Linked DNA regions of Homo sapiens. The protein of the gene in region 3 interacts with the protein of the main gene of each other region in a pairwise test. Each region holds a gene or a part of one and is shown on either strand. Other genes may lie near its edges.

Evidence for each region.
Region 1: the proteins of BRD1 (region 3) and CEP126 interact in a two-hybrid assay, tested with the Homo sapiens proteins (one large-scale study listed by BioGRID and IntAct).
Region 2: the proteins of BRD1 (region 3) and SS18L1 interact in a two-hybrid assay, tested with the Homo sapiens proteins (one large-scale study listed by BioGRID and IntAct).
Region 4: the proteins of BRD1 (region 3) and TRAF3IP1 interact in a two-hybrid assay, tested with the Homo sapiens proteins (one large-scale study listed by IntAct).

Annotation. Positions count from the first base shown.
Region 1 is NC_000011.10:101,983,407-101,989,544, reverse strand, and holds part of CEP126 (centrosomal protein of 126 kDa), read right to left. Parts: intron 2,714-6,138; coding exon 2,504-2,713; intron 1-2,503. UniProt on the Homo sapiens protein: Participates in cytokinesis. Necessary for microtubules and mitotic spindle organization. Involved in primary cilium formation.
Region 2 is NC_000020.11:62,173,727-62,179,864, forward strand, and holds part of SS18L1 (calcium-responsive transactivator), read left to right. Parts: intron 1-790; coding exon 791-918; coding exon of another isoform or gene 919-1,005; exon of another isoform or gene 1,006-2,592; intron 2,593-5,455; coding exon 5,456-5,482; 3' UTR 5,483-6,138. UniProt on the Homo sapiens protein: Transcriptional activator which is required for calcium-dependent dendritic growth and branching in cortical neurons. Recruits CREB-binding protein (CREBBP) to nuclear bodies.
Region 3 is NC_000022.11:49,815,345-49,821,482, forward strand, and holds part of BRD1 (bromodomain-containing protein 1), read right to left. Parts: intron 5,643-6,138; exon of another isoform or gene 5,490-5,642; intron 3,040-5,489; coding exon of another isoform or gene 2,878-3,039; intron 1-2,877. UniProt on the Homo sapiens protein: Scaffold subunit of various histone acetyltransferase (HAT) complexes, such as the MOZ/MORF and HBO1 complexes, that acts as a regulator of hematopoiesis.
Region 4 is NC_000002.12:238,347,645-238,352,461, reverse strand, and holds part of TRAF3IP1 (TRAF3-interacting protein 1), read right to left. Parts: intron 3,699-4,817; coding exon 3,614-3,698; intron 3,138-3,613; coding exon 3,054-3,137; intron 1-3,053.

The DNA.
Region 1 (6,138 bases), on a different chromosome or scaffold from region 3:
TTCTACATTTTAGGCGGAAATAGAATCCACACACACAAAATATATACGTATAATATGTGTGTGGTTCTGAACCATAGGTGATTTTTGCCACCCGGGGGATATTTGGTAATGTCTGGGAGCACTTCATTGTCATGATAGGGAAGTGCTGTGGCATCTAGTGGGTAAAGGCCAGGGATGCTGCTAAACATGTTACGATGCACTAGACAGTCCCCCACAATAAAAATTATCCAGCTCAAAATGTCAACGGTGTTAAGGTAGAGAAAATCTGATAGATACATAAAATATTTCTATTATTGTTCATATATAAATAATTAGAAATTCCTATTATTTTTTTTCTTCAGAATCATGATTTATTTAGAAATGTGTTTCTTAATGGCTATCTTTTGGTTAGTAGATTTCAGGTAAATTGCATTGTGGTTAGAGGATATGGTCTGTGTGACTCTGATCCTTTGAAATGTGTTAAGGCTTGTTTCATGGTCTTATACATGGTTCATTTTATAAAGGTTGTACGTTTACTTACAAAGAACGTGCCCCTTTGATCAGGTTTGTTAATCATAGTCAATTTTTATACATCTATTTGATTTTTAAAATCTATTCTATCAATTACTGACAATGGTATGTTAAAATCACCCACCGTGGTTAAAAATATTTTATATATTTGAGGCTATGTTCTCAAGTGCATATAAAAATCTTATGTATTTCTTCTGAAGTAAGACTTTGCTCATCATAAGTGCTCATCATAAAGTGACATATATATATATATATACATATACATATATTTGCTGTTAACAAAGTCTCTTCGTTTTTGTCTGAACATATTTTTAATTCACCCCCCTTCTTGAGAGACATTTTCATGTTAAGAAGGTATTAAATTTGAAAGTTACTTTCTCTCAGCACATTGGACATGTTGTCAATATCTCCTGATTTTTTTTCATTGTTTTCTGCCTTTTTGTTGCTGATTAACATTCATTGTGGATGTATCTTAGTGGTCATTTCTTTTTATTTACTCTGAAATGTGTTGGGTTGTTGAATCTGTAGATTGGCATTGTTCATCAAATTGGAAAAGTTGTCAACCGTTATCACTTTAGATATTGTCTTAGCCTTTCAGACCTTTTTATTTACTCTTTTGTGTCTTTTAAGCTCTATATCATATTTTCCATCTCTTTGTCTCTCTAAGATATACTGTGGATAAATTTCTTTGATTCATAATCTAGTTTACTAATTCTCTGTTCAGACGTCTGTAATCTGGTGGTTAAACCACCTACTAAATTTTACATTTCAATTATTATATTTTCAATTTCCAGGCATTCTATTTGGGCCATTTTTCAAATCTGTTTGCTCTTTCTTTATAGTTTCTTATTCCCTGCATGTTTAAGTTTAAAAATGACTGCATTTCTGCATTTTAAAGCTTATTTCTGACAACTTTAGAGCATACAAGCATAGTTATTTATAGTTTGTGCCTGGTAATTTCATTATCTGAATCCTTTCTGGGTCTGTTTATTCTGTTTTGTGGATTCTTTTGATTTTTTTTCTTGGTGCCTTTTTTCATTACGGATTAAGTTATTTACTTTTTTTTTAATTGTAGGCTGCTCATTTTCCTTGGATTTCACTTGTGATAATTCTTTGAGGACTGGAATATAGGTGCAGAAGATACATAAATGTACTTTTCCCAAGTGTTTTGGAATACTACCAGTTTGGGATCATTCTAAATTAAGTTCTTTGCTTGAGATCTTAAGAACTATTCAGTTAATGTGAGTATGGGCTGTAAATTAGTGTGATACTTGTATTAGACTGTGATTCTACATTCTCAGGGATCATTTTTCCTCTATCACCTGCTCAATACTGAAGTTTAAAAAATGCAAGCCTTTTTTTTTTTTTTAGAAAAAAATTCCCTCTCCCTGCGCTGCCTCCTCTGTGTATGCATGTGTAGTGCACAGCTCTTCGGGTGGCCCAGCTTTATGGTGGAAAGATCTTCTGTGAGACTACTCATCCTGAGTAGGCCTGTTCCCTTTTTCCTATGAGGCCATGGAAAGCAAAGTTCAATTTCACCCCATGAGTTAAATATCCTCAGGACAAGAGCTAGCTGCTGCACTCTCCTTATCTTTTTGAGTTCTTATCTACATTTAGTTATTGGTCTTAAGAATGTCTTACATTCTTACTAGCTCATCACTATATTGCAGGTTTAAAAAATACTTAATCAAGGATTTATGGTTGTTTTGATGGATGGTCAGTATAGATATGTAGCCTGTCCATTGCTGAAACAGAAGTCTATTCATATATTCTGAAAAGACAGATAAGTCTGCCAAAGAAGTTGACATCATCATAAATGATATGGCATACTTGAAATAGTATTCAAATATAGTCTGAATGGTTATGCACTCAGGTAGTTGGTAATATGGATATATTTTGTATTTTTCTTTTCAATTTTTAAATTAAAGTTTAAATTAAAATTGTCTAAGTATAAATGCAGTATTTCTTATAAAAGGTGTTCTTCCATACTTACAATGTAGTCTTTCACTGAGATCATTAAGGGACTCTAGGATCTTCTGTTCTTCAGCTGACAGTGTGCAGATGTTGAATTGTTGAGTTTTATTTAAAGGTAGATTTGATTTCTGTATCTGTTTGCTATTCAAGACAGTCAGAATCTCATCCTCCGGCACTGATGCTTTCACTAAGTTTTCAGCCATCAAAAACTCAGAAGTACTATCTGAAACTACAGAAACTTACATCAGTTATTCTTTGAACCCCTTTTGTCTTTGAGATCAGCCCTTATATATACTTACATATACTTATACATGCTTAACTGTCTGTATGTATTCATATTACAAGCAGAAACCTAGCAAATATCTGCTACTTTGATTTCATTTATCAGGATCCTCTATCTAGCATTTTCCTATCCTTCGTTTTTTAAAAAAGGATATTCAAAATGACGGCAGTGAGTTAATAAAAATTCCCAGAGTATTACTTGAACTAAAGAAAAAAACTATATAATGCAGATAGTTTTTGTCATGTTTGTTATTCATTGGTAGTACAAAAAAGATGAAGAAGACTGTCTTTATAATAGTAGTTATAATGAATTATAACAAAGTAAGACCAAAAAACCCTTAAGATTAGAAACTTTGATGATCAGCTAAACAGAACTGACAGCCTAGAAACAGACCCAATTAGATATAAGAACATGTGATCAAAGAAGCATCAAATATTTGACAGAAGGGAAAGATGATTTTACATATTAGTTTTTGCTTATAAAAGAATCAATTTGGGCTGGGTGCAGTGGCTCATGCCTCTAATCCCAGCACCTTGGAAGGCTGAGGCAGGTGAATCACTTGAGGTCAGGAGTTCAAGACCAGCATGGCCAACATGGTGAAACCTCGTCTGTACTAAAAATACAAAAATTAGCCAGGTGTTATTGTGGGTGCTTATAATCCCAGCTACTTGGGAGGCTCAGGCAGGAGAATCACTTGAACCCAGGAGGTGGAGGTTGCAGTGAGCTGAGATTGTGCTACTGTGCTCCAGCCTGGAGCTCTGTCTCAAAAAAAAAAAAAAAAAAAAGAAATCAATTCAGAGTTTTACTTCCCACTGTTTGTTTAAACAAATTCGTAAGAAATTAAAGACAAACTTAAGGAATCAACCCATTAATTAAAGCAGAAGAAAATGAAACAAATGTTTCTAAATGTCTGTATTGGGAAGGTTCTTTGACAAAGCTTAAAAGTAATGGAGACATCAGTAAGAAAAGACTAAATAAAACATGTTTATTTAAAGCCAGTCTTCCCTAATAGACTTTACACTTCTGAAGAGCAACACTTTTGTATATTTTTTTCATTATTGTAAATGTTAAGTATTCCTTGTCCAAAATGCTTGGGACTAGATATGTTTCAGGTTTTGGACTTTTTTAGAATTTTGGATATTTGCATACACATGAGATATGTTGGTGATGAGACCTAGGTTTAAACATGAAACTCAGCTGGATGCGGTGGCTCATGCCTGTAATCCCAGCATTTTGGGAGGCCGAAGTGGGTGGATCACCTGAGGTCAGGAGTTCAAGACCAGCCTGGCCAACATGGTGAAGCCTCATCTCAACTAAAAATACAAAAATTACCCAGGTATGGTGGCATACGCCTGTCATCCCAGCTACTTGGGAGGCTGATGCAGGAGAATTGCTTGAACTTGAGAGGCGGAGGTTGCAATGAACCAAGATTGCACCATTGCACTTCAGCCTAGGTGACAGAGTGAGACTCTGCTTAAAAAAAAAAAAAAAGAAACTCATTTATGTTTCATATATACCTTATACACATACCTGAAGGTAATTTTATATAATATTTTAAATAATTTTGTCCATGAAATGAAGTTGGTGTATATTGAACCATCAGAAAGCAAAGATATCACTGTATCAGCAACCTATGTGGATTATCTGTGGTTGTTTGGTATCACTGTTATTCCTGACTCCAAATTTATATCTACTGAAAAGCAATAATGTTCTTACACCTATTCACACGTAAGTACTTAACAGTAAAAAATAAGATGTATCCTTCACACTGTCAGAAAATAATGTGTTCAGGGCAACTAAGCACCACAGTAACATCACCAGAATACCTGTGTCGGCTGTTCAACAACAGCAACAAGGAACAATGGCAGGCTTCCAATCTTAGGTATTATGTTACATTTTGACCAGATGGTTACTGTACACTGTATTTTATTTTTTTAGGTGAGAAGAAACATCAGAAGCAGCTGAGGCACAAGGAAGTGGGTCCTCTAGGGATGAGGAAATATTCTGCTAGATGACCTTAAAAAATGTTTCTTCCAGAGACTTTTGCCTCATTTACAATGTCTTTTTTTGTCCTATAAGCCTCTCTTTGATTTTATAAACTGACATAATTTCTTGTTGTTATGAGTGTACACTGCTCTAGTCGTTCAATAAACCCATCACACATTTTCATCATATTGTCAATTGGCACCTTTTTCTTTTTCAGTGTTAACAATGCCATTATCATCACTATTATCACAATCATCTTAATTCAGAGCTCTTTTGGCTATTTCATCATTGGTCAATGAAAACACCTGGAGTCTTATTATCGATGTTAATAACCTCTTTGATATCCACTTCTTCCAGCTTACTGATAGACTCTGAAGGTATATTTTTTTGCTTACGTAATGAGGTCAGACATAATTTTTTCTCACTTGACATACAGAATCCTTCAGTCACTACCTTGTTCATCATCACTGAACATAGTTGCAGGCCAGAGGTTGTGCCAGGAATGCACAATTGTGTCTTTAGTCCCTGTGTTCCAAGTGTTTGCAACAGCATGTATGGCATCTTTCATGCTAAACTCGTTTTGAAAACCTTCTACATCCACATCTCTGTTCACTGTTGCTGGCATGCTGTTCAAGAAAGTGTTTATATGTATTTACTCTTCATCTACCTAACGATAGTCTGGTCACACAGCTGAATTAATGAAGTAATATTTGGGGGAAAGCACGTGGCATAAAGATTATTTTTGATGAGAATTTCAGCTGGAGGATGAAAAGAACAGTTGTCAAAGAATAACAAAATCTTGCAGTCATCATTCAATCCAGCTTCCCTGATATAAAGTGTTTGTGAAACCAATCAGAAAAGATGTCCCTGGTGATCCATGTCCTTTTGTTAGCACATTAATGGACTGGTAAGAAATTCACTCCTTGAAATCAGTGAGGACACAAGCTTTTGCCTATCATAGCAAATTTACACTTGGGCGTGACTGAGTCATTAGCACATCCTAGCAGTTATTCTGTTATTCTTAATTCTTGTAGGGGCTGTCTCATCAGCTATAGTCAATGTTTTTTTGAGTAACAACACCAAACCAGTGATGTTCATCAGTAACATATACTTCTTCTGGTGTCAGATATTCATCAGCGATGACCTTGGCAAACTCTTCAATGAATTTCTCTGCTGCTTTGTAATCAGCAGACGCTTGATCACCACAAATCTTTAAAAATAATGCTGTGTCTTAAATTTCTATAACCAGCCTGTTGAATATTCATGGTTCTCTTCAATTTTCAGTTCATCATGATAGATCTTTGCTTGTTTCATGATCAGCATACCATTAAGTGGCATGTGCTCATGCGACGCTGATGGATCCACTCTTTGACTTCATGGTTGAA
Region 2 (6,138 bases), on a different chromosome or scaffold from region 3:
TACTTGAGGCTCAGTGTGGTGGCTCATGTCTATAATCCCAGCACTTTGGGAGGCTGAGGCAGGAGGATTGCTTGAGCCCAGGAGTTCGAGACCAGCCTGGATGACATAGTGAGACCATCTCTACAAAAAATACAAAAATTAGCCAGGCATGGTGGCACACTCCTGTGGTCCCAGCTACTTGGGAGGCTGAGGCAGGAGAATCACTTGAGCCTGGGAGGTGGAGGTTGCGGTGAGCCAAGATCACGCCACTGCACTCCAGCCTGGCTTGGGTGACAGAGTGACACCCTGCCTAAAAAAAAAAAAAAAAATTGGCCTCTATCAGTTCTTGCCGGAGCCTTTGACTTAGCCTTCCTAGAGACGATGTCTCTGTCTCACCTGCCTGCAGGTTTTCAGCAGCTCCCGTGGTAGTTCAGTGACAAGTTACAGCAGCCAGTGTGACTGGGGCCAGCGGGTTCTGGAGGGCTGTCCTGCCTTCAGGTAGCAGCAGTTCTGGGGTGATGGAGAGAGCCCATCAGCCCTCGCCATGCTGGTGGGGGGCCTGGGGCACAGTCCTGGGACCTCACAGGACTGGAGGGGCTGGTGAGTCGGTTACGTGGTGCTCTCGCTGTACAGAGTTAACGTGGAGCCACGTGCAGGTGCCAGGTGTTCTGGAGATTGACAAAAGGCTGATGCATTGAGACGGGAATTTTTCAAGGAGAAGAGGAAGTTTTAAAAAAAATTTTTAAGTTAAGAAAAAAAAAGAAAGAGGTGTCCGTTTTGGCCGGCCTCACGGTTCCTGGTGTCTTCTCAGGGTCTGCCCAGGGAGCCCCGTCACAGTACCCCGGCTACCAGCAAGGCCAAGGCCAGCAGTACGGAAGCTACCGAGCACCGCAGACAGCGCCGTCTGCCCAGCAGCAGCGGCCCTACGGCTATGAACAGGCAAGCTTTCTGGATGTTTCCAGATGTGCCCATCCGCCGCGCCTGTCGAGACATAATGAAGATTTCTCTTATGGCCATGAGGAATAATGAGCTGGAACTAACTGGCTTCCAGGGTTCCTTCCAGAACGTTAAGTCTCTGAGCCTGTAAGGTTTTGCAGAATTGCCTCTGTGTATACGCTCACCTCAGTCATCCAGCTGGCTTTTCATACCCTAAGCTCACCGTTAGATCTGCACGCCTGGTTCTCACATTCATTCACTCTGCCAGTGTTTGTCACGTACTGGGTACGCGTCCGGTCTCTGCTGAGTGCTTGGTGTGTGGCCGCGACACGAACCCTGCACTTTTAGAGCTTATGTCTCGCTACAGAGACATAAGGTGGTCCCACAGGGCCAGACTGTGCTGAGGACAGAGCGGGGGGCCCCAAATGGAGCCCGCCTTCCAGATGGGGGCGCAGGCGACCGCATTTGGCCCGTGTGGGCAATTCCAGGACGAAGACACAGCGGGGAGTGGCTGGCAGCCCCAGGCTCAGCCTAGGGAGGGGGAAGCCCTTTCTGCCCAGGAACAGTGAGCAGGGCTTTGAAGGAGCTGAGGAAAGAGCAGCTTGGAAGATGGAAGAGCGGGAGCTCTCGGGACAGTGAGGAGGCCGGTGTGGCGGGAGGTGACAGGGACAGGTGGGCGTAGGGGCCTCCATAAAGCAGACATCGCTTTCCCTCTGAGTGGGATGGGGCCCCTGGAGGAGGACAGGGTCTGTGTGGTGGGAGCACTGCAGGAGCGAGGGCCTCCTAGAGGAGAATGAGCCAGGCAAGGGAAGAGGGCGTGCCAAGGTCCTGAGGCACCAGGAGGTTTGTCCCAGTGAAGGCAGCCTGAAGGAGGCTCGGTGGCTGGAGCACAGGGCATATGAAGGAGAATGGTCTGGGACATTTTTTGGAGCCTCCTTTGAGAGAGTCCTTAGCAGGAAGTGGCTCTGTGTTGGTGACTCTGAGGTGGCTGGAGGTGTTAGGGACACTTTACACTGCCAGTGAAATTTCAAAGCACTACATCGCTCAAGTTTGTTTTTCTCAGGGAATTGGGTAGGTAAGAGGCCAAAGACTGTTTTTTAAATGCTTCTCGTCCTCCTTCTTCAAGAGGGCAAAGGGTCACCAGGTAGATGTAGAGAAGCCTAAAGACCATGTAACACAGTCTCCCTGCCAGGGCACCGTACTCGGCCATGCCTGGGAAGGGCACGCTGATGAGGCATTTACACAGATGTCAGGAGGGCTCTGGTGTGCTCTCAGGACACTGTGAGGCCACTGTAGCCGACGCAGGGGCCGCCTCTCCCCAGTGTGTGCTGGGCGCTGGTCAGCGGGGAGCAGGCCCCAGCTTGGCCCTCCAGGTTTGCACAGGAGTGTCATGCTGGAGTCTGGAAGGACAGCAGTCTGCATCCTGATGTTAAATTAGAATTATATGTGAATGATTCTGATGAGACGCCATACCTCCTTCATACAGTCCTGAAAATAACTTATTTGGATTTTGTGAAATAAGTGAATGTCCTAACTTAATTATAAGACTGAACCAGAGGACATATAACTTTATACCTACCTATGAAAAGACCGTGACCGGTCGTGGTGGCCCATGCCTGTAATCCCAGCACTTTGGGAGGCCAAGGCAGGAGGATCACTAGAGCCCAGGAGTTTGAGACCAGCCAGGGTAACATAGCAAGACCTGTCTCTACAAAAAATAAAGTAGTCAGGCATGGTGGTGCATGCCTGTAATCCCAGCTACTTGGAAGGCTGAGGCACGAGGATCCCTTGAGCCCAGGAGGTCGAGGCTGTAGTGAGTCGTGATTGCACCATTACACTCCAGCCTGGGCTACAGAGAGCGAGACTTTGTCTTAAAAAAAGGAAAAAGAAAGGCCAGGCGTGGGGGCTTACACCTGTAATTCCAGCACTTTGGGAGGCTGAGGCGGGTAGATCACCTGCAGTCAGGAGTTGGAGAGCAGCCTGGCCAACATGGTGAAACCCCATCTCTGCTAAAAATACAAAAATTAGCCGGGTGCCTGTAAGCCCAGCTATTGGGGAAGCTGAGGTGGGAGAATCGCTTGAACCGGGAAGGCAGAGGTGAGTTGAGATCACGCCACTGCACCCCAGCCTGGGCGACAGAGAGACTCCATCTCAAAAAAAAGAAAAAGACACAGAGCAATGGGGAAGATAGAGAATAGAATTTCACATCTGGGGGGAAATGTGTCCATCTAACTGCAAAATATTAAGATAGCCTTTAGTCAGCATCCAGTGTAGCTGGCCGTGGCGCTTTGGCACAGCACTGCCGGCGCTGGGCGTCTCCTAGGGGCCATTGTGCACACTGTGTTATGTTTGCAGCACCCCTGGCCTCCACCACGATGCCAGTAGCACCCCCATTGCCCAGTCTGACAATTTAAAATGACTCCAGACATTGTCAGATGCCCCAGGGGCAAAACTGTCTCCGTTTGAGAACCACTGGGCTACACTTAAACATGTGCTGAGGCGGCCAGGCGCTGTGGCTCACGCCTATAGCACTTTGGAAAGCAGAGGCGGGCGGGAGCAGATAGAGACGGAGGTTGCAGTGAGCTGAGATCGCGCCATTGTATTCCAGCATGGGCAACAAGAGCGAAACTCTGTCTCAAAAAAAAAAAAAAGGTGCTGAGGCATTGGGGCTGCCAGTGGTTTTATAGGGCTCCAGGGCTGCCATGCCTTCAGCTGAGCAGCTCTGGATTTGAGGCTTTCCGTCTTACCCAATGGTGCAGGAGCAGAAAGACATCAGAACAGACTCCCACTAACTAGAATCATCACAGGCAGCTCTGGGAATGAGAATGTGACGTGTTCGGTCAGGCTGGAACAGCTTTCCTCCCTCCCCCACTTCCTCGCTGGGGGCATTCGGGAAATCTGATCATTAACTAGCTGGGGACACATGGAGAACAGGCATGCAGATGATGATCCGTTGTCTTCCCCTGTGGCAGTCTCCCGAGTGGCTTTCACCACAGGTCCGATGCTCCGTTTTGCTGCCCAAGGAATTCTGCCTTGTGGCCTTGTGGGGCACAGGCTCTCTAGTTTCTCTTCTTCATGTTGTTTTTTGTTGTTGTTTTTGAGATGGAGTCTTGCTCTGTTGCCCAGGCTGGAGTGCAGTGGCACGATCTCGCTCACTGCAGCCTCTGCCTCTCGGGTTCTAGCAATTCTCCTGCCTCAGCATCCGGAGTAGCTGGGATTACAAGCACGTACTATCACACCTGGCTAATTTTTGTATTTTTAGTAGAGACAGGGTTTCGCCATGTTGGCCAGGGTGGTCTCGAGCTCCTGACCTCAGGTGATCCTTCCAAAGTGCTGGGACTGTAATCCTACAGGCATGAGCCACTGTGCCTGGCCTTTTTTTTTTTTTTTTTTTTTAAGACAGGGTCTCACTCTGTCGCCCAGGCTGGAGTGCATTGGCAGGAACATGGCTCACCGCAGCCTCAACCTCCGGGGCATGCGCCACAACATGTGGCTTATTCTTTTTTTTTTTTTTTTTTTTTTTGAGACAAGGTCTCACTCTGTCACCCACACTGGAATACAGTGGCATGATCTCGGTTCACTGCAACCTCCACCTCTCAGGCCCAGTGATTCTCCTGCCTCAGCCTCCCAAGTAGCTGGGATTACAGGCACGTGCCACTACCACCTGGCTAATTTTTTTTTTTGTATTTTTAGTAGAGATGGGGTTTCACCATGTTGGCCAGGCTGGTCTTGAACTCCTGACCTCAAATGATCCACCCACCTCGGCCTCCCAAAGTGCTGGGATTGCAGGCGTGAGCCACTGTGCCTGGCCGAGGCTAATTTTTTCTCTTTTTTTGTAGAGATGGGGTCTTGCTGTACTGCCCAGGCTGGTCTCAAACTCCTGGGCTCAAGCAGTCCTCCTGCCTCGGCCTCCCAAATTCAGATTTGTTTTTGAAACAGGGTCTCACCCAGACTAGAGTGCAGTGGTGCAATCACGGCTCACTGCAGCCTTGACCTCCTGGGCTCAAGCGATCCTCCCACCTCACCCTCCAAGTATCTGGGACTATTGGCACACGCCACCACACCCAGCTAATATTTGGATTTTTGTAGAGATGGAGTCTGGCCATGTTGCCCAGCCTGGGTCTTTAGATTTTTTTTTATAGATTGAAACCCATCACCCTGGTCGTCCCCGCTCCCATTTTCTTACTGTAGCAGGCTCGGGGGCAGATGGTGTTTGCATTGGCTCCCAGTGGGGCCAGCTTGGAGGAGAGCCTTCCTGCATAGCAGGCCCAGCATAAGGCTCTGATGCCAGGCCTGGCACAGGCCCGGCCGCAGCGATGCCAGTGTGTGACTGAACAAATGAACCTTTGGCCCTGTCTACGTTGTTAGCCCCAGGCTTGGCCAGTGGCTTCTGGAAAGTCGTTCGCTGCCCCGCAGAGATGTGAGCAGAGGTTGTTTGCTTGCTGTTGTCCCTCCTACCCCCTGTCCGGGCTGGGGTGGACGTCTGTCTTCCTTTCACTCATTACTATAGGGGTGTAATCTGTGTCTTGATCTCTTTTAGGGCCAGTATGGAAATTACCAGCAGTAAGGGACACACATTCTGGCTGGAGCCCTTGTGGTAGCGTGTTCATCCAGGGGCCGGATGGGCTGGCGGCAGCTCTGGTGAATTGTGACATGTTGGTTACCTGTTCGCCCAGTGCCACGTCTGCATGTGAAGCGTGCTCATTTCATGCTGGGTATGACGCCGAGCGCACACCACTGGCGTGAGACAGCGCTTGGTGGTGTGATACTTTTGGTGCTGTGTATAGTATTGTATGTCGGTACACGGAGAGGTATCCTTTTTTTGTCCCCCGCCCCCTTCTCAATGTTTCTAGCTAGCTTTGGGGGTCATTTTGTCATCAGAGCATTCTGTGCCCAGGGACAGGACAGATCTCGAGGACACCACAGTCCACCTGTTCCCGTCAACAGACGTTAGGTCTCATTTTCCTCCTCATGCAGTGTTGTAGTGTGGGTTGTCAACTTTTCTTTAACTGGCTACGCCACAGCTGGACACACATGCAGCCCCTGGAGGGCAGCCTCTTCCTGTGCCTCGATGGGGTGGGTGGGAGGGCATCTTCTGTGCGTTGGGTCAGTTTCTGTTACGTAACGAAAAGGATAAACATCTCCCACGGGAGAGGCCACAGATGGCCACTTCCAGAGCTTGCCCATTGCCTGTCTCTCGCCAATTCCGTTTATCCAAAAAGG
Region 3 (6,138 bases):
CCAGCCTGGCCAACGTGACGAAACCCCATCTCCACTAAAAACACAAAAATTAGTTGGGCGTGGTGACGTGCACCTGTAATTCCGGCTATTCGGGAGGCTGAGGCAGGAGAATCGCTTGAACCCAGGGGGCAGAGGTTGCAGTGAGCGTAGATCACGCCACTGCACTCCAGCCTGGGCGACACAGCAAGACTCCATCTCAAAAAGAAGAAAAAAAAAAAAACTGTTTCCAGATATAGTAATGTCCATTTCTGTAGAGGAGAATCCCTCCTGCCTGTCAGCCTGCACCAGGAAGGGCTCTGTTGTGAGCTGCCAGCTACAATCTGCACTAAAACCCAGAAAACCAACAAAGTCACAGGAGGGCAGGAATGAGTCAGTGTCTGAAACGGCATTCAGGTCTGTTCCTCATACAGGAGAGCAGGCGCTCCTGCAGGCTGCGTCCACCCAGGTGCCCTCCCGAGCTCCCAGGCACTGGCTGGACCTGCCCTGCAGCTCCTCCTTCCAATGTGTCGTCCTGGCGCTTCCTTCCCGAGTGCCCGCCACTCCAGACCCGATGCAGGTCAAGCACAGGGAGCTGCCACCTGTGGCCTCATGGCCCCTGCCATGCCTCCCAGTGCCACCCGCAGCAGCCAACTCATGCACCCACACTGCCCGGGAGGCACCCACACAGGGCCTCCCGGTGCCACCCGCAGCAGCCAACTCATGCACCCACACCGCCCGGGAGGTACCCACACAGGGCTCTCCCCACTGGGCACTGAGCCAGTGTCTCCTGCTTCAATCCATGCCAGATACAAACTTTTATAAAAAATTAACAGCCAGAAACATGGAGGAAAAAAAGACTTAAAAACACAAGCCAAAGGGGGCCGCGGCCGGTGGCTCTAATCCGTAACCCTAGCACTTTGGGAGGCTGAGGACCACTTGGGCCCAGGAGTTCAAGGATGCAGTGACCTAGGATTGCGCCACTTCACTCCTGCCTGGGCAACAGAGCAAGACCCCGCCTCAATTAAAAGAACAAAACAAAACCTCTGCAGGTACCCACTAGGTGACAGCTGGGATCCTCACAGGGCCTACCTAGTGGACTCAACGCCCCCAAGACAGAACAGCTTCCCCACCCTCTGAGGACGGCTGTGCAGGTCAACAGCCTGGGGCTGCAGCAAGTGCTCAAGGGAGACAACGCCTCCCGACAGTGACCCCAGAAAAAGTTCCAGAATAGTGACATCTTTATTCCAGAGTCAACATACTACCCTCCAGCATTAGACTACAGACTAAGGCTGGGGCTGGGCGAGGTGGCTCACACCTGTAATCTCAACACTTTGGGAGGCCTAGGCAGGAGGATTGCTTAAGCCCAGGAATTCAAGATCAGCCTGGACAACATAGTGAGACCCTGTCTCTATAAAATAGACTAGGGCCAGGTGGCCTCCAACACTGCAGGAAGTGAGTCCAGGTAGGAAAAAAGTGCCTTCCGAATTCTGGGGCCCAAGGTGCCTACCCTGCAGGGAATAGTAAACAGACACTCTCTGGACTGCGGGGGCCAAGGCCCGCCACCCAAGGCCCTTAGCAGCCGGCATATACCACCTGTGGGTGACCTTGTCTACACAGGACTTTGCTATCCATCCGCCAGGACCTGAGGGAAGAGAACTGCCGGACCCCATTCCTGCCCCTTCTGCCACCATTTCAGACACCCCACAGGGACTCATTTTGGGGGTTCCCAAATGAGTTCCCACTGACTTCCAGGAAATCCATAAGCTGCTCTATGACCCCAGCTTGGGTGACCATCTCTCCTTGCCACGCTGACCCTTTTCCCCTGACCTCACAGTGCCTCAAGCTCCAGGAATGGCTCAGAAGGGGTGCAGAGCCAGTGGTGATGGCACGGTGGGTCAAGGAGTCACCCCTGGAGGTGATGTGTCTGGCAGAGGCCTTGGGGAGCTCAAAAGGATGGCACTGGGGGTGCATGACTGTTCATGAAGCCAAAGAGAAATAAAAAGAGGCAGCAGAAGGAACTTTCTTCATGTGAGATAGTTCAAGTTCAGACTTCCTGCTAACAACATCTATTAGGACATGGGCTGGACCAACTCATCTTCCTATGGAATACCAAGACAGGAGATCCAGACAAACTCCATCATGTGCACCAAGCCCAAGCTCAAACAATCAGCTGGTGCAGCATGTCTGCTGAATGACTGTGCTGTGATGGGCTAGGACCAGCAGGCGGCCCAGGGGCCCTAGACTGCTCTGTTCACCTCCATCCAACCACATCGCTCTGCACACCAGGCACCATCTCTGTAGGCTCACCACTAACAAAGGGACCGGTACCATCTGAGGACTGCCTTTACCAACAAGACTAAAAGATTTCTTGGAAGAATATCAATTCCAGGGGTCAATGTTTCTCTTTCTCTAAACATGCCTCACATAGAGGATCTCCAGATGCAGCTGCGTCAAAGACAACCAAAATTCAAGAGACTGCTCTGGATAACCATGCAAAACCCCTTAGAGACAGGGTCTCACTCTGTCACCCAGGCTGGAATACAAAGGTGCGATCACAACTCACTGCAGCCTCGACCTCCTGGGCTCAAGCAATCCACCCACCTCAGCCTTCCAGTGTTAGGATTACTAGCCTGAGCCACCGCACCCAGTCAACTTTTCTAACAGCTCAAGTCACTCTAATTTAAATGCATGAGGAGAATATCTAGGTATTTAAAGTTCGCCACGTATTTTCACCTGAGTGATGCTTCCCTTCCTAAGGCTGACCAAGACCAGTTCATCCTTTTAAACTCAAAATAAAATGACACCAGTGAAGGCGGGAGGAGCACCCTATCAGGGTGAAGGCGGGAGGAAAACCTCATTCGAATGAAGGTAGGAGGAGCACCCATCACAAAGCCTTGCCTATCTGAGGTTCTTGTCCGTGAGGCTGAAGTCCAGGCTCTCGTAGTAGAGGAGCTCCTCCTAGAAGATCTGAAGCAGTCAAAGGAACCAAACCGACACAGGCCGTCTGCCTGCTGATCACAGTCTCTTTTAAGACACTTTCTACTTTGCATTCTGATGAACCTAGGAGTTTTGTTAAACAGATTATGCGTGTATTTATCCCTCATTTCATGCAATAACCAAAAAGAGTTATCAGGAAACCCTGTTTGTCTTTTCACCCCATGTATGAACTCTCATGTGAATGAGTCCTGCAGTAATCCATGTTAAGGGAGCCCTAATTTCAAACTGGTGCAAATGGAAAAGACTTTCCCTTTTCCTTTAAGACTAAAGACAAAATGTCCTCCTGGCCGGGCTCGGTGGCTCACGCCTCTAATCCTAGCACTTTGGGAGGCAGAGGCAGATGGATCACGAGGTCAGGAAATCAAGACCATCCTGGCTAACATGGTGAAACCCCGTCTCTACTAAAAATACAAAAAATTAGCAGGTGTGGTGGTGGGCGCCTGTGGTCCCAGCTACTCAGGAGGCTGAGGCAGGAGAATGGCGTGAACCCGGGAGGTGGAGCTTGTAGTGAGCCGAGATCGTGCCACTGCGCTCCAGCCTAGGTGACAGAGCAAGACTCCGTCTCAAAAAAAAAATGTCATTCTATACAGGTGCAACTCAATCCGTTAATAAAAACTGATGTATGCTGGAGAGAGGAAGTGAAAAGAAAAAATAGGGCTGGGTGCGGTGGTTCACGCCTGTAATCTCAGCACTCTGGGAGGCCAAGGCAGGCAGATCACCTGAAGTCACGAGTTTGAGACCATCCTGGACAACATGGTGAAACCCCATCTCTACAAAAAAAATACAAAAATTAGCCAGACACCGTGGCACACACCTGTAGTCCCAGCTACTCGGGAGGCTGAGGAACGAGGATCGCTTGAACCTGGGAGGTGGAGGCTGCAGTGAGCCGAGATTATGCCATTGCACTCCAGCCTGGGCAACAGAGCGAGGCTTCATCTCAGGAAAAAAAAGAAGAACAGAAAAGAAAAAATAACAATAAATCAATGTAAGGCCAGGCATGGTGGCTCACGCCTGTAATCTCAGCACTTTGGGAGGCCGAGGCAGGCAGATTGCTTGACCCCATCTCACCAAAAAATAAAAACATTAGCAGGGCATGGTGGCACATGCCTGTGGTCCCAGCTACTCAAGAGGCTGAGGTGGGGGAGTCGCTTGAGCCCAGGAGGTCGAGGCTGTAGTGAGCCATAACCATGCCACTGCACCCGTCTGAGCAGAAGAGCAGGACTCTGTTCAGGAGATTCTCCTGCCTCAGCCTCCTGAATAGCTGGGATTACAGGCGCGCACCACCACGCCTGGCTAATTTTTATATTTTTAGTACAGATGGGTTTTCACCATGTTAGCCAGGCTGGTCTCGAACTCCTGACCTCGTGATCTACCCACCTCGGCCTCCCAAAGTGCTGGCATTACAGGTGTGAGCCACACACCCAGCCCTGCCTGTTTTTCAAAGTGTTTATTTACCGCTGTTATTATTTAATCATAGTATATCAAACTTACAAAAAAACAGATTATAACCTTAAAACTATCTCTTTTAGCCTGGCGCAGTGGCTCACGCCTGTAATCCCAGCACTTTGGGAGTTCGAGGCGGGTGGATCACCTGAGGTCAGCAGTTCAAGACCAGCCTGGCCAACATGGTGAAACCCCGTCTCTACTAAAAATACAAAAATCGGCCGGGTGTGGTGGCAGGTGCCTGTAATCCTAGCTACTCAGGAGGCTGAGGCAGGAGAATCACTTGAACCCAGGAGGTGGAGGTTGCAGTGAGCCAAGATCACCGCACTGCACTGCAGCCTGGGCAACAAAGCAAGACTCCACCTCAAAAAAAAGGGGGGAAAAAAAAGAACTATCTTTTTTACTTGAAATTTTAATTTTTTAAACCACTAGAATTATAAAAGCAGTCCGTCCCTGAAGGCAGATTCTGTTCTGTCCACAGGGAATAAGGAAGATCCTCTTTCTCTAAAATCTCTAAAACGCTGCTCAGATGGGGTCTCATCTCCCTTCCAGCGTGACTGGCTGGCCTGAAGCATAACATCCTCAGATGCTCTAGGTGGGTCCTACACCGGAGCCATTGGTTAGTGCACACCATAACCAACTAGACTCAGCATCCCCGCCCACGGCTGCACATCAAGAAGCTTCACCATGGGCCAGGCACAGTGGCTCGTGCCTGTATTCCCAGCTGAGGCTGGGAGGAGGCTGAGGCGGGAAGATCGCTTGAGTCCAAGAGTTTGAGGCTACTGTAAGCCATGATCACGCCACTGCACTCCAACGTGGGCAACAGAACAAGACCCTGTCTCTAAACATAAAATAAAAAATAAGAAGCTTCACCCTCATCTACACAGAATTCAAATGCACAGCTGAGGCCTCCTACATGCACCCAGGGGTAGTGCCCAGGGCCTAAGAACAGGGCTGCCAGATCAGCTGCCTCTCAGACCACAGCAAGGCAGTAAACCCGGTTTCAGGCAGCAGTCAGTACTGTATTGAGAGCCTGCCCCTCACAACCACCCCAGAGGTGGGTCCAGCACCATGGTGCCAACAGGCCAGGCGCACTGGGAGCTCCTCCACTGGTGGCAAGGTGGCCTGAAGCACCAGCATCTCCTGGAGACTGGGAAACCCAGACTGCAGAGACCGCGGCCAGGAACACTCGTCCAGGTTTGTTTCTCTCTCTCTACTCGAAGCTGAAATAATAGTTTATTCCCAAGTTAGGAAAAGAACAGAACCACACAGTACGCGGTTTAGCTCCAATACATGCTTTCAAATATTTAGGTCGAGTTTTCTTCTCAATCAGCCCTGGCCACTTCAGCCCCCATGTCCTGCATGCAAACACTGCCTCCTTCAGTCCTGCCTACCCAACATCAGGAGCCAAAGAACAGAGAGCGTGCGGCCCGGCCAGGCCCGGCCTCTCCCAGAGCAGGTCATCATCTGGTACTGGCCAGGGAAGGGAGCACTTCAGACTTTTGGCTCTTCATTTTGTTAGATCACATTTTGTTTATTTTGCTTCAATTTCAGTAAAGCTGAAATTTTTAGACCTCTTATACAGAAGCTCTTAATACAAACCCTAGACTTTTTGACTCATAGGTAGAAATCCAAGCAAAACCATCTCTTCAAAGTCAGATTAATTTACAAAGACAAACACCTTGGTTTTGACAGGGTTTTCCCTGGATGGGAAGGATT
Region 4 (4,817 bases), on a different chromosome or scaffold from region 3:
GCCCTTCACCTGCTGCTTTCTACCTGGAGGCGCTTATTGCCCTGGGTCACAAACCTCAGGGCAGGGGCCACATTGGGGTCCCACTGACCAGGGCTGACCCCAGACCTCTCTTCACACAGCCAGCTGGAGGCCCCTCATTCAACTCCTAGTCACAGTGGCTGCCCTATGTCCCGCTCAGCACCACGTACACACTGCGCTCCACCCAAGTCCACATCATTCTGGGCAAGTCAGCGTCCAACAGCCTGGCCCTCCAGCCCCAGACCTTGTCCTCCTTGGTGACAGCCTTCACCCAAGGGCTCTCTCATGCTCTCCAGGGCCACCTACTAGAACTGCCCCACCTACAGCTGCCCCACTCCTCCTCACTCAGGCCACTGTCAGCTCACTCTGTACAAATGTGAGCCCCCGACCCAAACACTCTACAGGCTCCTTAATGGCCCCTCCTGCCTTTGTTTCTTCCCTACACACTTGTGCTTTAAGCAATCACCTAACTCCCCCTGCCCCGTTATCGCAGTGCTGCATGCGTGCACATGCATACACACACACACACACACACACGCATACACACAAGCACATGCACGCACACGCGCGCGCGCGCACACACACACACACACACACACACACACACACCAAAATCCTCCCTTGCTTCAGTGCCATGCACAAGGTCCAGAGGGAATGTAGACACTTGGGAACGACCTCTGAAAATAACACCCATTGCCCCAAACATCCTCGACTTCCTCAACTGGGTCCTTGAGACACTCAACAACCACCTGTGTGGCTCCGCCAGGACCAACCTCACTTCGAACCCGCTGCTCTGTCAGTACCAGGAAGTCCAGGCTCCCGTCCCTCGTCTCTCACGCTCCCAGCACACCCTCACTGTGGCCCACGATCCACCTCCTCAACACCTGCGCCCCTGTGCCTGCCGTGATCGGCAGGCCCTCTCTGTCCCGCCTTGCTCTCCAGGACACAGCTTCCCCACAGCCCTCAGCTGCAGCTGCTGCTCCTCCCACCGGCCTCTTGTCACGGGCCCAGAGGGAAGGTCAGTAATTTCCTTATGCTTGCTTCGGCTTCCAGATCACTCTCCCTAAAAACTGCCAACTTTAAATCTTGTCACCCTCGACCCCATCATTGCTGCCATCAGCTGCCAACCCATGGTCCCACCCAGTCCTCCTGGACCCGCCACTCTCACCAACGGTGCTCCTGTCTTACTTGTGATTTCAAGTATTGAGAAATGATCCTTCCAAAATCCTGGCCTTGGGTCCCTGAACCCTGCTGGGATGATCCCACCTCCCACACTCGACGCCCACTCCCAGGGGCACCCCTGTCACTACCACTAACAGCAAGCTCCAACCTCAAATCCAAGCGCCCCACTCCTTTACCACCACTATCTATATTCCCAGCTCACCGCCCTAGGACCTGACTCCAACAATCCTTCTATCCATCCGGCACCTTCAGCCTCTCAATCCTAATGCCTCCTCCTGACCTTCACCCCGAGGGCTCCTCCCTCACTCACTGGCATAAATCCCACATTGGTCATGACCGTGGCGCTTCCACATACTCCTACTCCTTCCCTTCTCTCTCGGTGCACTTGCTTGGCACAGCCGAGCCCTGTTTAATACAGCCTGTGCCCCCCAGTGCCTGTAGGTGTAGCCAACTGCAGCTGCAGAACAGGCCCCGCCACACCATCTTCTGTCTCTTTACGCCCAAGTCCACCAGATGCTGCCCTGAAGTCAGCTGTCAGCCACGGCCTCCGCCCAGGCACTATGGGCAGGCAGCCCATCCTCCTTTGTGGTGGAGACTGTCCTGTGCATTGTAGGAGGTTCAGCAACTGCCCTGCCCTAACCCCTCCCCTTCATCAGAACACCAGAAAATGTCTCCAGATCATGGCCCAGTGTCCCCAAAGTAGGATCACCCCTAGAGGAAAACCTCTGCTCCAGTCTCTTCACTAGCCCACTCTCGTGCACAGCGACTTCACCCAGCCCCTCTCTCCTCTGACACTCCTCTTCCCCCAGACCCTCTTACGGCTCATGAGAAAAATAAGTACCAGAAAATCACCTTAAGAATCTGCATCACACCATGTGCCGACTCCACCTCCGCGCCCGTTCCCACACCCACACGGGGACTCTGCTCCACCAAACCCCTGTCCCACGTCGCCTACGTCATCAATTTCCCCTTTCCACTGGATCATTCCCGTCATTAGAAAAATAATAACTCCCCTTGACACCACCTTTCCCACTTTCTAGTCTTATTCCTTCCCTTCTCTTTGTGGCAAAACTCCTAGAAAAACACATCTACTCCTGCCTCCAATCCCTGCCTCTTATTTGATCTGAAACCCACTCTGATCCATCCTATCTGTTGTTTGTCTTTATATTGCTTATGACTTTATTTTTTTTTTTGAGATAGTCTCACTCTGTCGCCCAGGCTGGAGTACAGCAGTGCAATCTCAGCTCATTATAACCTCCACCTCCCAGGTTCAAGTGATTCTTCTGCCTCAGCCTCCTGAGTAGCTGGGACTACAGGCACACGCCACCACGCCCAGCTAACTTTTGTATTTTTAGTAGAGACGGGGGTTTCACCACATTGGCCAGGCTGGTCTCAAACTCCTGACCTCAAGCCATCCGCCCGCCTCGGCCTCCCAAAATGTTGGGATTACAGGCGTGAACCACCAGGCCCAGCCTGCTTATAACATTTTGATCACCTTCTATTTTTAATTTTTCTGCAATTAAGCCCCTAATTTTTTTCCCCTATTTTTTCCTAATTCCCCTATTGTTTTCACGCTTAGAAAGTCTTCAATCTAGGGGTCAGAGAAATGCAGTCCAACATTTTCCCATAGATGTGAAGATGTATTTTACATGTATGCATGGTTTTTCTCTTTCATCCATCTGACATGTCTGTTGGCCTATGGTGTGAGGCGAGGGCCTACCCTCACTTTTTGTTCCTCAATAGCATGTTTCCAGCACCATGTGCTGCTTCCCTCCCCCTTCTCTTAGCGGAGGCACCATGCCCACTGGAGAACACACTGTGTGGCTGGAACTGCCCTGCTGAGCCAGCCTTACCTATCCATTTGTAGCGCCTCCATGCTGTCTTGCCGTTTGACCCGGGGAGGGGCTGGTCTTGCACTCCCAGGCCGAGGAATTCTTCTAAACCCAAATATTGGAAAACCAAAAAAGGAGTATGAAAGGCTTATACATTTCAAACTGGAAAAGAAAGCCCAGGTGAATGTTAACTCTCATCTCCAAGCCATAATCAATGTGCTGGTTAGGACACGCTACTCTGCAGAAGAGGAGGAACGTCCCAGTAACCCGACCAATCAGAAAGTGTCCATCTTTCCACTTGTATTTTCAGTAATTTCAAAATACCAACAACTGTCACTAATCAAAACATCACATAATTCAGCTATAATTTTGAATTCCCCTAAATCTCCAAAATATTATATCACTATATAGTGATATAACTCCAGTACAGAAAACTGATATACTTCTTGTATTCTTTGTATAAGTAATTCCTCATAAGTTAGCTCAAGCACTAAATAAATAGCAGCAGCCAGAAAGAGAAGCACAGCAGTGTCCTAGGTGTGATCACTCTGCTGAGGGAAAGGGATTCAAAGCACACAGACCTGATGTTGGATGAAAGCTCATTAGGAATTTCTGGAGTCTCTGGCACCTCAGACTTATCTTGGCCAGCAGGTCCAGCATCTCCTTCTAAACAAATGACAATCAATTAGCAATTCACAAAGGAAAACACACATAGATAACTATTTGAAAATACTATTTGCATCTGTATTTGCAGTTATTTGCAATCAAATACATTTGTAATTGCAAATACAAATGAGCAATTTTTCCATCAATCATGTTGATGAAGAGAAAATCGATGTCTGATATCTAAACTCAGTGAAGATTTGGGAAAATGGGCACACTCAAACCCAGGGAATACAAACTGGTTCAACTACTTCAGAAATAAAATTCAAAAGGCAGGCTGATCAACTGAGCACTTAAAGGAAATACAACCCAAGAGGAGAAATGGACACATGTCAAGATGTTCACCCATCGTCACTGGTAATACTGACAATCAATCAGTAACTAAGTAAATTATGGTACAGTCACATGTCAGCTCCCTTTTGTGTGAAACAATCCAGTACAGTAATATATCTAACAATTATATACATATGCATATATATATATACAGGGTTCTAGAAGAATATTCATTTAAGTTATAAGCAGTAGAATTACCAGTGCTTTTAATTTTTGTTCTTTTTTTTTTGCATTTTTAAATTTTTCTACATTGGTATACCATATTATGTTTATAATCTGAACAAAGTTTTCTTCATTTTGATAAAAAGAATTAATCAGTAAATAACAAGGCCTAAACTATTAAGACAAGTTTACTCCACTATTTAAAGTAAAAGGAATTAACACTTCAGAAAATAGTCAGAATTTGAATATTAGAAATATACTTTATATTCTGGAAAAAAATCCTGAAATGTATTGTTTTCAAACTTAAAACATATAAATTAAATTTCAAATTAAATTAGGGTAGTTGGCCAGGCGCAGTAACTCACACCTGTAATCCCAGAACTTTGGGAGGCCGAGGCAGGTGGATCACCTGAGGTCAGGAGTTCGAGACCAGCTTGACCAACATGGAGAAACCCCGTCTCTACTAAAAATACAAAATTAGCCGGGCGTGGTGGTGCATGCCTGTAATCCCAGCTACTCAGGAGGCTGAGGCAGGAGAATTGCTTGAACCCGGGAGGCAGAGGTTGCGGTGAACCGAGATCATGCCATTGCACTCCAGCCTGGGCAACAAGAGTGAAACTCCATCTC